3 linked regions of the Homo sapiens genome follow. The protein of the gene in region 2 interacts with the protein of the main gene of each other region in a pairwise test. Each region holds a gene or a part of one and is shown on either strand. Other genes may lie near its edges.

Evidence for each region.
Region 1: the proteins of SYNPO (region 2) and WNK1 interact in a two-hybrid assay, tested with the Homo sapiens proteins (one large-scale study listed by IntAct).
Region 3: the proteins of SYNPO (region 2) and SGF29 interact in binary tests that used the Homo sapiens proteins (3 or more experiments, as listed by UniProt).

Annotation. Positions count from the first base shown.
Region 1 is NC_000012.12:899,062-902,622, reverse strand, and holds part of WNK1 (serine/threonine-protein kinase WNK1), read right to left. Parts: intron 2,148-3,561; coding exon 1,953-2,147; intron 1-1,952. UniProt on the Homo sapiens protein: Serine/threonine-protein kinase component of the WNK1-SPAK/OSR1 kinase cascade, which acts as a key regulator of blood pressure and regulatory volume increase by promoting ion influx.
Region 2 is NC_000005.10:150,647,111-150,650,671, reverse strand, and holds part of SYNPO (synaptopodin), read right to left. Parts: intron 2,729-3,561; coding exon of another isoform or gene 2,397-2,728; coding exon 369-2,396; coding exon of another isoform or gene 339-368; exon of another isoform or gene 1-338. UniProt on the Homo sapiens protein: Actin-associated protein that may play a role in modulating actin-based shape and motility of dendritic spines and renal podocyte foot processes.
Region 3 is NC_000016.10:28,581,403-28,584,963, reverse strand, and holds part of SGF29 (SAGA-associated factor 29), read right to left. Parts: intron 52-3,561; coding exon 1-51. UniProt on the Homo sapiens protein: Chromatin reader component of some histone acetyltransferase (HAT) SAGA-type complexes like the TFTC-HAT, ATAC or STAGA complexes.

The DNA.
Region 1 (3,561 bases), on a different chromosome or scaffold from region 2:
AGAAATCATGTTAGAAGGAGAATTTTCACTTGCAGATGCTGGGCTTTGATCTTTATTAGACTAAGTGCTTTATCAGAATAACCAAACTAAAAACCGCTTTTGATTTTATGGGGTTAGAGGACAGTAGTGGTGGAATGATCCAATGAAGAGATCCTAGCATCTTTTCAACTGGTAGCTGCTTAGGCTTAATAGAGAAGAAAAATAAGATTTCAATCTACTCTGACAAAGAATGGAAAAAAATGGTACATAATTTTTACCTGCTGCCAGGATCTAAGAGCATCATTGGTCAAAATGCTTTCTTCATTTCGTTTCTTTTTTTTGAGATAGAGTCTCACTCTGTCGCTCAGGCTGGGGTGCAGTGGTGCAATCATGGCTCACTGCAGTCTCAACCTCCTGGTCTTAAGGTGGTAATCCTCCCGCCTCAGCCTCCTGGGCAGCTGGGACTATAGGTGCACACCACCATGCCAGGCTAACTTTTTTTTTTTTTTTAGAGATGGGGTATCACCATGTTGCCCAGGGTTGGTCTCGAGCTCCTGGCCTCAAGCAATCTTCCCGCCTCGGCCTCCCAAAGTGCTGGGATTACAGGTGTACGCCACCGTGTCTGGCTGATTTCTCTCATTTCTAATGCTAGGGCAGACAGACAGCACTGACTACGACTGTGGAGTTCAGTCTTCATTATTCTAAATGACCCAGCAATCTATTGCCTAGATACCATATCCACTCTCTGTCACAGATCCATGAAGAAGCACTTCTACCAGAAAGTTACATTGAAATTTGTAGATAACTTGTTATTTTGACATTTTTTATCATAATTAATGTGGGGGCCCAAACTTCTGAGGGTAACAGTAATTCAGCCAAGCCACTGAGTAGATGATATACAAAAAGAGACAAATGAAAATGGACTGCGTGAAACATCAGATCCAAGCAGCAGAAACACAAGGACAAGGAAGGAGTAAAGGTGTTACACACAAAGAGCCAAGCAGGGCGTACTCAGAAATCGGGTCCTCCTGCCACCAGGTTTGAATGTCACCTGTTCAGATGCACAGTTAAACTTCGCACAGCCTGTGAGAGGGGAAAAACAGGGTAGAACAGAGAGAGGAGAAGAGACAGAACACAACTACAAGATGTTAGAAACTTGAGGCTGGAGTGGTGAAATGCACTAAGATGGCACACAGAAGAACAAGCTTCTGGGGGGAAGGTCAGATATGTAAGAGATGAAATATTAGGTCTTAATTCTACCCATCTGCAAAATGCGGAAGCTTTTCTTAGTTCGAATAATGCTAGCTAGTTTGCCCTCCTTACCAATCAAGTGCATTCTTCCTGTGAAGAGACTGATCTCTAATTTCTGTGAAACTGTGGCAAAGGCACATAAGCCAGTACCTATATTTTTTTCATTCTTCTCACCCAGATGCCCAAGTCTTTTCAATTCTTGTTCTAATATGACTAAAAGCTCTTTCCTCTGTGGGAATTTTTTCAGCAATCACTAATAAACAGAGCTATATTTGGAAAGTAGATTATGGATAAAAAACTGAATTGTAAGGTTATTCATTTTAGTATGCCACTCCCATACTTAAAAGTAACAAAATTCTACAATGGCTAAGAAAATGTATTAGCTTCAGAAACTGCTAAAACACCTTAGAATTTCATCCAGGAAATCTCAGCCTAATATTAAAGCCTAAGTTCCAAATCCCAAATGAGCAAGTCATATAGGCCACACAGATGTAACTTTTCACTGTAATTCCTTGAAAAAAAGTAATTTCACCTAATGGGAGCAGTGAGCCCACCGATTCTCATTATCACTCCACTTCCCTTTTCACCCAGATTCTTCAGTGTACAACACACAGGCTGTGTTCTGGTCAGCTAGTCTCCCAACCCGCCTTAACAGGCTTTTGTCCCAGGTATGGCAACATCTCCATTTTATTGTTTTTGGACGATGATGGTTGCTTTATTACCTTGACCTGGAGCAGAAAGGCTTGGTACTGAAATGGCACCATCACTGGTGAAGGCTGAATAGAGGTTGTCACTGGAGGGAGATGGCTTAAGGGGCTGTAACAGCTGATTCTGCCCGGACTCTGGGATGTTGCCAGGAGGGTGGAGGGTCTGCTGGGGGTGCAAGACTGAAGCTGCACTCTGACCAGACAGGTTACCTGCCAAAAGATAAAGTGGCATGAGGAAACATGTCCAGCTCTTCCCATGCACTCATCAGGCACTGTTCTTATACATTTGGTTTGTTCCACTGAGTGATGAATGATGGGTCAAAAGCTACAAACTGATGAGAAGAACAAAGTCCTCACTAACGGGAGAAGTGAGGAATGACACTAAGACTCAATAGATAGGCTGGGTGTTGTGGCTCACGCCTATAATATCCCAGCACTTTGGGAGGCCAAGGTGGGCGGATCACCTGAGGTCAGGAGTTCGAGACCAGCCTGGCCAACATGATGAAACCCTGTCTCTACTAAAAATATAAAAATTAGCCAGGCGTGGTGGAGGGTGCCTATAATCCCAGCTACTCAGGAGGCTGAGGAAGGAGAATTGCTTGAACCCAGAGGCAGAGGCTGCAGTGAGCCGACATCATGCCACTGCACTCAAAAAAAAAAAAAAAAAAAGAAAAGAATCCATAGGTAATAGGGCCATATGTACTATTCCAGAGCTTTTTAGCTTTAGAAAACCTAGATGGGCCACATGTCTGAGCAGCGTAAGAAGACCAGAGTACCTAGTGGATACCCAGATTCCATTCTGCAATTCCATGATTGCTTTTTTTTTTACCCTATTAGAAAATGTGTTGAATCATTATACAAAAAGGTTTGCTAGGCAGTCTCTGCTTAGACTTTCCTATAAACGTGCATCAGAGCAAATACAAAAGAGGTGTTCAAAAATGATGGAGGTCACTACAGAGCAATGGGTGTTTAAAATTATTTTTGGTAGGTTGCTTTCAATAGGTCGGTTGTCCTAAAATTGACTCTCTGCTCCCCGGTTCCCAGTTGAATTCAAGTCCACTCAAAAAGTATGTCAAAATTAGGATTAGAATTTGATTAGGATCATAGCTGGGCATAGTGGCTCATGCCTGTAATCCGCACTTTGGGAGGCTGAGGCGGGCGGATCACCTGAGGCCAGAAGTTTCAGACCAGTCTGGCCAACATAGTGCAACTAAAAATACAAAAATACAAAAATTAGCCAGGTGTTCTTATACATTTGGTTTGGGATTACATGCTTGTAATCCCAGCTACTTGGGAGGCTGGGGCATGAGAATTGCTTGAACCTGGGAGTTGGAGGTTGAGCCACTGCCGACTCTGCCTCAAAAAAACAAAAACAAAAACAAAAAAGATCTGATTGGGATCAGATCAGAAATTAGCTGATTTCTCTTACAATCACATCTCTACTAATGGGCTGCATGAACTGGCCCTAATGTGCTACATTTGGATATCTGTGAACCTTTCCAGAGAATGGAACTGCTAAGAAGTTTGCAACTGCTTTTTAACATATTTTAACCTTCTTTTACTTTTCAACTAATTGTGTTAACACTACCATAATTTCACCAAAGGATTAGAAACTCTCTATCTA
Region 2 (3,561 bases):
AAGACGCTGGCATCAGACTCTGCATCCCTACAGCTCACAAAGGCCAGAGGATGCCCCTCTACCGCATCAGGGCTGCCAGACAGTTCTCTCTCCATGACCCTCCTCCCCGCTCAGACATGGAGTCCGACCCCTGTTGTAGTAGGGGAGGGGCGGCTTCAGCTCAGAGAGGGGAGGCGACTCGCCCAAGGTCACAAAGCCAGCTGGTGGCCGCATCTGACCTTGAACCATGGACTCCCCATTCTCCTCACTCAGCTCTGTGCCATTTCCTGCCACATCTGCTCTCCATCTGGCCCTCAAGGAGGGGAACTTGACCGGCAGTGGGACCCCCGTGGGGTTCGTTACTTGAAGCAGAAGGAAGGCTTCCACACCTGAGCCTCGATCCCGGCGTTCCGGGTAGAGAAGGAGGGCCTGGGGGCCTGCTTGGCTCGGGGAGACCACGCCCTGGAGGGAGACACGGGGGAGATGTCACCGCCGTAAGGAGGGCTCACGGCAGTGGGCTGCAGGCTGTCCTGGCCGGGGGAGGTGTAGAGGCCCGGTGAGGAGCGCGAGGGCCGAGGCAGGGCAGGAGATGGAGGGAGAGCCCCCTTGGGCAGGTTGGGCACCAGGTCCAAGGAGCTGGGCTTGGCGGGCGAGGCAGCTCTTGGTGAGACCTTGGCAGGCTCCTTGATAGGTGAGAGGACAAAGAGCGAGGGGCGCAGCTGGTATGGCGGCTGCTTGGTGGGCTCTGGGCGCAGGACCCCGTTCTCAGGCAGGTAGCCATGGTAGAGGGAGGCAGGCGGGGTCCGGGCTGGGCTTCGGGATGCCACTCGGAAGGCCCCGGGGGCGTTAGTGGGGTATTTCCAGGAGGAAGGCAGGGACATGGTAGGTGATGGGCAGCGGGCCAGCTCTGGCGTGTGGCTTGAAGACTCGATGACATATTTCTCCATCCGTGACTGGCGGCGGGCGTAGAGCTCAGCTCCCTTCCCAGAGGCCTCGGAGAGGTTCTGGTTGGGTTTGGGCTTCGGCTTGGCCTGGATGCGGGGTGACTTGAGGCAGGAGGCCCACTCTGGTACCACCTCCTCCGCCGCCGCGGGGCTGGCCCTGTCACGAGGTGCTGGCTCCTGCTGGAAGTTGGAGGCCTCGGCCCCCAGTGCGAAGGGCTCCTCCTCCACGCCTACCTCCCCCTGGTCCCTCTGCCGCCGCTTCTCATCCGCTGTCTGTACCAGATCCAGCAAGTCTGGATTCGGGGTCACCTTGGGCTTCTCCACGAAAGTAAACATGGATTTGCGGCTGCCCCGGCGGGCCATCGACTCCTCCAGAATGCCCGTCTTGCTGGCAGGAACCGCCTGGCCCTTCAGATGAGAAGACTTGGGGTCGGAGCTGGGATACAGGACAGAATATGAGGGAGGAGACCTCACCCAGGAAGCCAGAGGGGCTGTGGACAAGGTCTCAGTGTAGGTGGGGGGTGCAGTGAAGTTCCCCAAGGGGCGTCTCTCTGAGGCCGGGCTTCGCTGCCCCATCATCCTCCTTTCCACCATGGGGCTGCGGGACATTATGTGTCTCTGTGGCCGGGGGCTCCTGTCTGGCAAACTGGGGGGCTGGGGAGCCGGGGCCTTCTCCCCAAAATGTCGTCTCTCTAGCATGGGGCTCCTCTCCATCTGGCTGGTGCCCCCTGGCGCCTGGATCCCAAAAGGCCTGGCCGTCCTGTTGACCACTGATGGGGGCTTGGCCAGTGTGAAGTGGACCTCACTGTAGACCTTGGTGGGCGTGGTGGCAGCTGCTCGCCCAGACATCTCTTGATCTGCTGACACCACTAGGGTGTTGGGCTGGATGTCAATGAGCAGGGAGCTGGACATGAAATCTGAGGCTGGGGGCCTGGAGCTGGGGATGAGCGTAGCTTCTCTGGAGAAGGTGCTGGTGGTGGTAGCTGGAGTTGATACCTTGTCAATTAGGAGTGTGCTGCATCTCACCTCCTCAGCCGGTGCCTGGGGTTGCCCATCAGCACACAGGGTGCTGGGTTTGGAAGCAGGCCCTGTGCCATTAGATGGGAGTTGGGCCTCTGAGGAATTCTGTTGGATGCTAGAAAGTGGCAGGCTCTGTGGGACAACAGTTGCCGGTGGGTTCTGATTGACATCGGTGGCTGGCGGATTGTGGCTGCTGTTAGAAGTTGGTGTGGTGAGCGTGGCACTGGGCGAGGCAAGGTTTTGGTTGACATCTGCAGCTGGGCTGTGGACCTCAGCTGGAGGTGGGGCCGGTGAGGACTGCTGGGCCTCTCGGTTTTGGGACAGGTGCAGCCCATTGGCTGTCAGCAGTGCTGCATTCTCCTTTAGATAAACCACCAGTGGTACCTCTTCCTCCTCACTGGCCACCTTCTCCAGGTGCCGCAGCAAGCTAGCCTCCTCTGAGTACCCCTCCATGCTGTGGCCAGGGACCCCTCTGTCGGGGCTCTGGGGACTGGGGTGCCGTGGAGGGCCTGGCTCCGGCAGCGAGGTGGAACTCAGGCTGAGCCCCGGTGCATGGCCTGGGAGGCTTGAAGGGAGCACTCTGAGGGACTCCTGGCTGGGCTTCTGTCCCCTCTGGCCGTGGCTCTCCAAGGTGAACTCGTTCACCCTCTGCCGGCGCCTGTTGAAGAGCTGGACGCCACGGGAATTGGAGCTGGGAGGGGTGGTCAGCTGGGCTGCAATCTGCTGGCTCCGCGCCTTGGCTTCTTTCAGATCCTTCTCCGTGAGGCTAGTGCTCCGGCCCAACGCTACAGGGAGGGACAAAAGCCCAGTTAGCAAACAGGAATGCAGTGACACAGGGGTGCACGGACAAACAGGCAGACAGAGATGGTCGCCTCGGCCCTTCCTACACAGGATCTCTTCTGGAATTTAATCGTCACTCACTGTTTCTTAGAATTAGCTCACTTCGTAATCAGCCCTGACCTACCTTTCATGGCCCAACTCAAATGCCACCACGTCTACGCCACCCTGATTATCCTCTCAGGATTAACTGGTCCCTGATTTGGAATCCCCCTGACAGTTGCTGATATGGCACTTTACCAAACTGAGTACGAACACCTCACCCTAGAAGTCCCACCGTGTCCCCAGTTCCTCCCCACTGCCTTCTCCTCTCTCACTAGGCTCTGCCACACTGGCTTGCTTTCTCTTCCTTGAAAATGCCAAGTATGTTCCTGCCCCAGGGCCTTTGGACTTGCTGCTCGCTCTCCTTGGAATAATCTTTTCCCAGGTAGCAGTCCATGCTGGTTCCTATCTTGCCACTCAAGTCTCAGCTGGAATGTCCCCTCTCTGGAGGCACCTTTCCTTCTCCTATCCCATCTGTTTTGTTTTCTCCATAGCATTCACCAAGTTGAAATGATCTTTATGTTTCCCTGTCTATTATCTGTCTCCTCACCTACAGCATAGCTCCAAGGGGCAATGACCTTGCCTGACTTTTTTTTTTTTTTTTTGAGAAGGAGTTTTTGCTCTTGTCGCCCAGGCTAGAGCGCAGCGGCGCAATCTCGGCTCACTGCAACCTCCGCCTCCCAGGTTCAAGTGATTCTCCTGCCTCAGCCTCCCGAGTAGCTGGGACTACAGGCATGTG
Region 3 (3,561 bases), on a different chromosome or scaffold from region 2:
ATGGGTCTTCTGGATGTTCACTAAGTTGTGTTCGCTCCGCGAACGCTCTTCCTGTAAGGAAAAGAGCAGCAGGACATGACGGTGGCCCTTTGTGCTGCTGTGGTACCCTGCCAGCCAGGCCAGAGTCCCCATCCCCAAAATACGGCCCTCATTTTCTTTTTTTTTTTTTTTTTTTGAGATGGAGTCTCACTCTGTCGCCCAGGCTGGAGTGTAGTGGCACGATCTCGGCTCACTGCAAGCTCCGCCTCCCGGGTTCACGCCTTTCTCCTGCCTCAGCCTCCCGAGTAGCTGGGACTACAGGCGCCCGCCACCACGCCTGGTTAATTTTTTGTAGTTTTAGAAGAGACGGAGTTTCACCGTCTTAGCCAGGATGGTCTCGATCTCCTGACCTCGTGATCCGCCTGCCTCGGCCTCCCAAAGTGCTGGGATTACAGGCGTAAGCCAATGCGCCCGGCCTAATTTTTTGTATTTTTAGTAGAGACAGGGTTTCGCCATCTTGGCCAGGCTGGTCTTGAACTCCTGACCTCGTGATCCACCTGCCTCGGTTTCCCAAAGTGCTGGAATTACAGGCAAGGGCGCCCGGCTATGGCCCTCATTTTCTAAATCCAAATTCAGGAGTTCAAGATGATTTTCTCCTTTGACTAATGCAAAAGCATTATAAAAGGCCTTAAAGGGCCTGGTGCAGTGGCTTAAGCCTGTAATCCCAGCACTTTGGAAGGCCAAAGTGGGCAGATCACTTGAGATCAGGAGTTCAAGACCAGCCTGGCCAACATGATGAAACCCCACCTCTACTAAAAATACAAAAATTAGCCGGGCATTGTAGCATGTGCGTATAGTCCTAGCTACTCGGGAGGCTGAGGTTGCAGTGAGCTGAGATCATGTCACTGCACTCCAGCCTGGGTGACAGAGTGAGACTGTTAAAAAAAAAAAAAAAAGAAGGCATTAAAGTTAAATCATAAGTGATATCTTTAATGATAGTCCTTTATCAAAGAGACAAATCAATCTATACAGTCAACGCAATCCCCATCAAAATTCTAATTGACTTCTTTGCAGAAATTGACAAGTTCATCCTAAAATTCATATGGAAATTCACGGGACCCAGATTATCCCCAATCTTGGAAAAAGAAAAAAAAAGTTGGAGAACTCATACTTCCCAATTTCAAAATTTATTACGAAGCTACGGTAATCACGATGGTGTGGTACTGGCATATAGATCAACAGAACAGAATTCAGAGTCCAGAAATAGACACATACAGGTATGATCAATTGATGTGGAGAAGAAGGGGTGGGGAAGAATGCTGGTGCAATTCCTCCCATATCAGTCATCCTGGGAGCAGAGCTGCAACTGCAGATGCTGGAAACTGAGACAGATCCTAAGAAAGAAATTATGACTATGCTTTTTAGCCTTTATGTGAGAATTTTTAAGTGCCTGATGGGTGGGTTGCGCCTTTACCTCAACCTGCAAAATGAGGTTAACAGTGAACACAGCTAGCTAGCTGCCTAGTGCTCAAGACAGCCAATAGTCCATACCTGTGTAACCCCACCCTATATAAATGGGAATGGATTGGGGTTGGGGGGGGATACTTGCTAGACTAGTACTGCTGCCGCTGCAATCTGGACCAGGTACAGTGGCCAAAGCTAACATCCCTTACAAAGGTGGAAAAGTTTGGGTGAAAACCAATCACAAATGGAGAGGAGAAACAGTAGCCGAGTTAACAGAACAAATTAAATGGGTTATGCAATGAGGGAAATCCAATATTGTACTCATACCTCAAGAGAGGCTGAGAGAGAGAGAATGCCATCTCTTAGGTCAGTTACACTGGGTGCCTGAAAGGGCGAAGCCCTGTGTCTGTCAGGACCACGCCTGCTTTTGGAAGCTGACGGGTGAGATGGGAGTCTGGGAACTCGGCAGCAGCTGTCTGAGGGACACCCTGGTTGTATGGGATGATGATAAACTGTTCTAACTGTGGATGACTGAATGGAATGCGTAATCTGCCTGTATCTTTTTTTTCCTTTATTTATTTTTTTGAGACGGAGTTTCGCTCTTGTCGCCCAGGCTGGAGTGCAGTGGTGCGATCTTGGCTCACTGCAACCTCCACTTCCCAGGTTCAAGCGATTCTCCTGCCTCAGCCTCCCTAGTAGCTGGGATTACAAGCATGTACCACCACGCCCGGCTAATTTTTAGTAGAGATGGAGTTTCGCCATTTGGCCAGACTGGTCTCAAACTCCTGACCTCAGGTGATCCACCCGCCTCAGCCTCCCAACATGCTGGGATTACAGGCATGAGTTACCACGCCCAGCCCTTTTTTCCTTTATTTTACAATGTATTTTATTGATAAACTCTTCTTAGAGCAGTTTTGGTTTACAGAAAAGCTGAGCTGATGGCACAGAGTTCCTGTATGTATACCTGCTCTGCCCTGCGCAGTCTCCCCTATTGTTAACATCTTGCATTAGAGTGGTGCGTTTGTAACAACTGATGAGCCAATACTGTTAGATAATTAACTACATCCATCCCCATGATGGTTTACTCTGTGTGTTCTGCCGTTCTATGGGTTTGGACAACGCATCATGTTGCGTGCCCCCCATCATGGTACCCTGCAGAAGAGTTCCACCCCCTAAAATCCTCTGTGCTCCACCTATCCATCCCTTTCATCCTATCTCTCCCAAGGCCCTGGCTACCGCTCATCCTTTCACTCTCTAGTTTTGCTTTTCGTTTACAGTTGGAATACACAGCACGTAACCTTTCAGACTGGCATCTTTCACTTAGCAATGAGTGCCGGCATCTTCTGACTCTTACTCTCCAGGTTACGTCTAAAAGGAATACCATTTGGGAAGGAATTTCTGGGATCTACTCCTTCCTGGCTGTGCGGTGCACAACTGCCAGCAAACTGATCCTTGTGTAGCTATAAACCCTGAGTATCGTGGGCAAAATGTGGCAGAGCATGCCCGATAGCCTGCAGTGAGCTACAGGCACCAATACGCATCTCCCTTGTATCTGTGAAAGAAAAGATATCAAATAGGGGAAAAATGGCTTTTTTTTTTTTTGAGATGGAGTCTTGCTTTGTCACCCAGGCTGGAGTGCAGTGGCGCCATCTCGGCTCACTGCAACCTCTGCCTCCCGAGTTCAAGTGATTCTCCTGCCTCAGCCTCCCCAGTAGCTGGGATTATAGGCATCCGCCACCAAGCCTAGCTAATTTTTGTATTTTTAGTAGAGACAGCCAACATGGCAAAACCCCGTCTCTACTAAAAATACAAAAACAATTAGCCGGACATGGTGGTGTGTGCCTGTAATCCCAGCTACTAGGGAGACTGAGGCAGAAGAATCGCTTGAACCCAGGAGGCAGAGGTTGCAGTGAGCTGAGATCGCGCCACCGCACTCCAGCCTAGGTGACACAGTGAGACTCCGTCTCCAAAAAAAAAAGAGTGTTTTTGTTTGCCTGGATTAATAGGGTGGAAGGAAAAGATATGGGGCATTTTTGTTGGGTGTTAAAAATGTTCTGAAATTGATCGTGCTAATGGTTGCACAATTTTGTGAGCTGCGAAAAACCACTGGATTATACA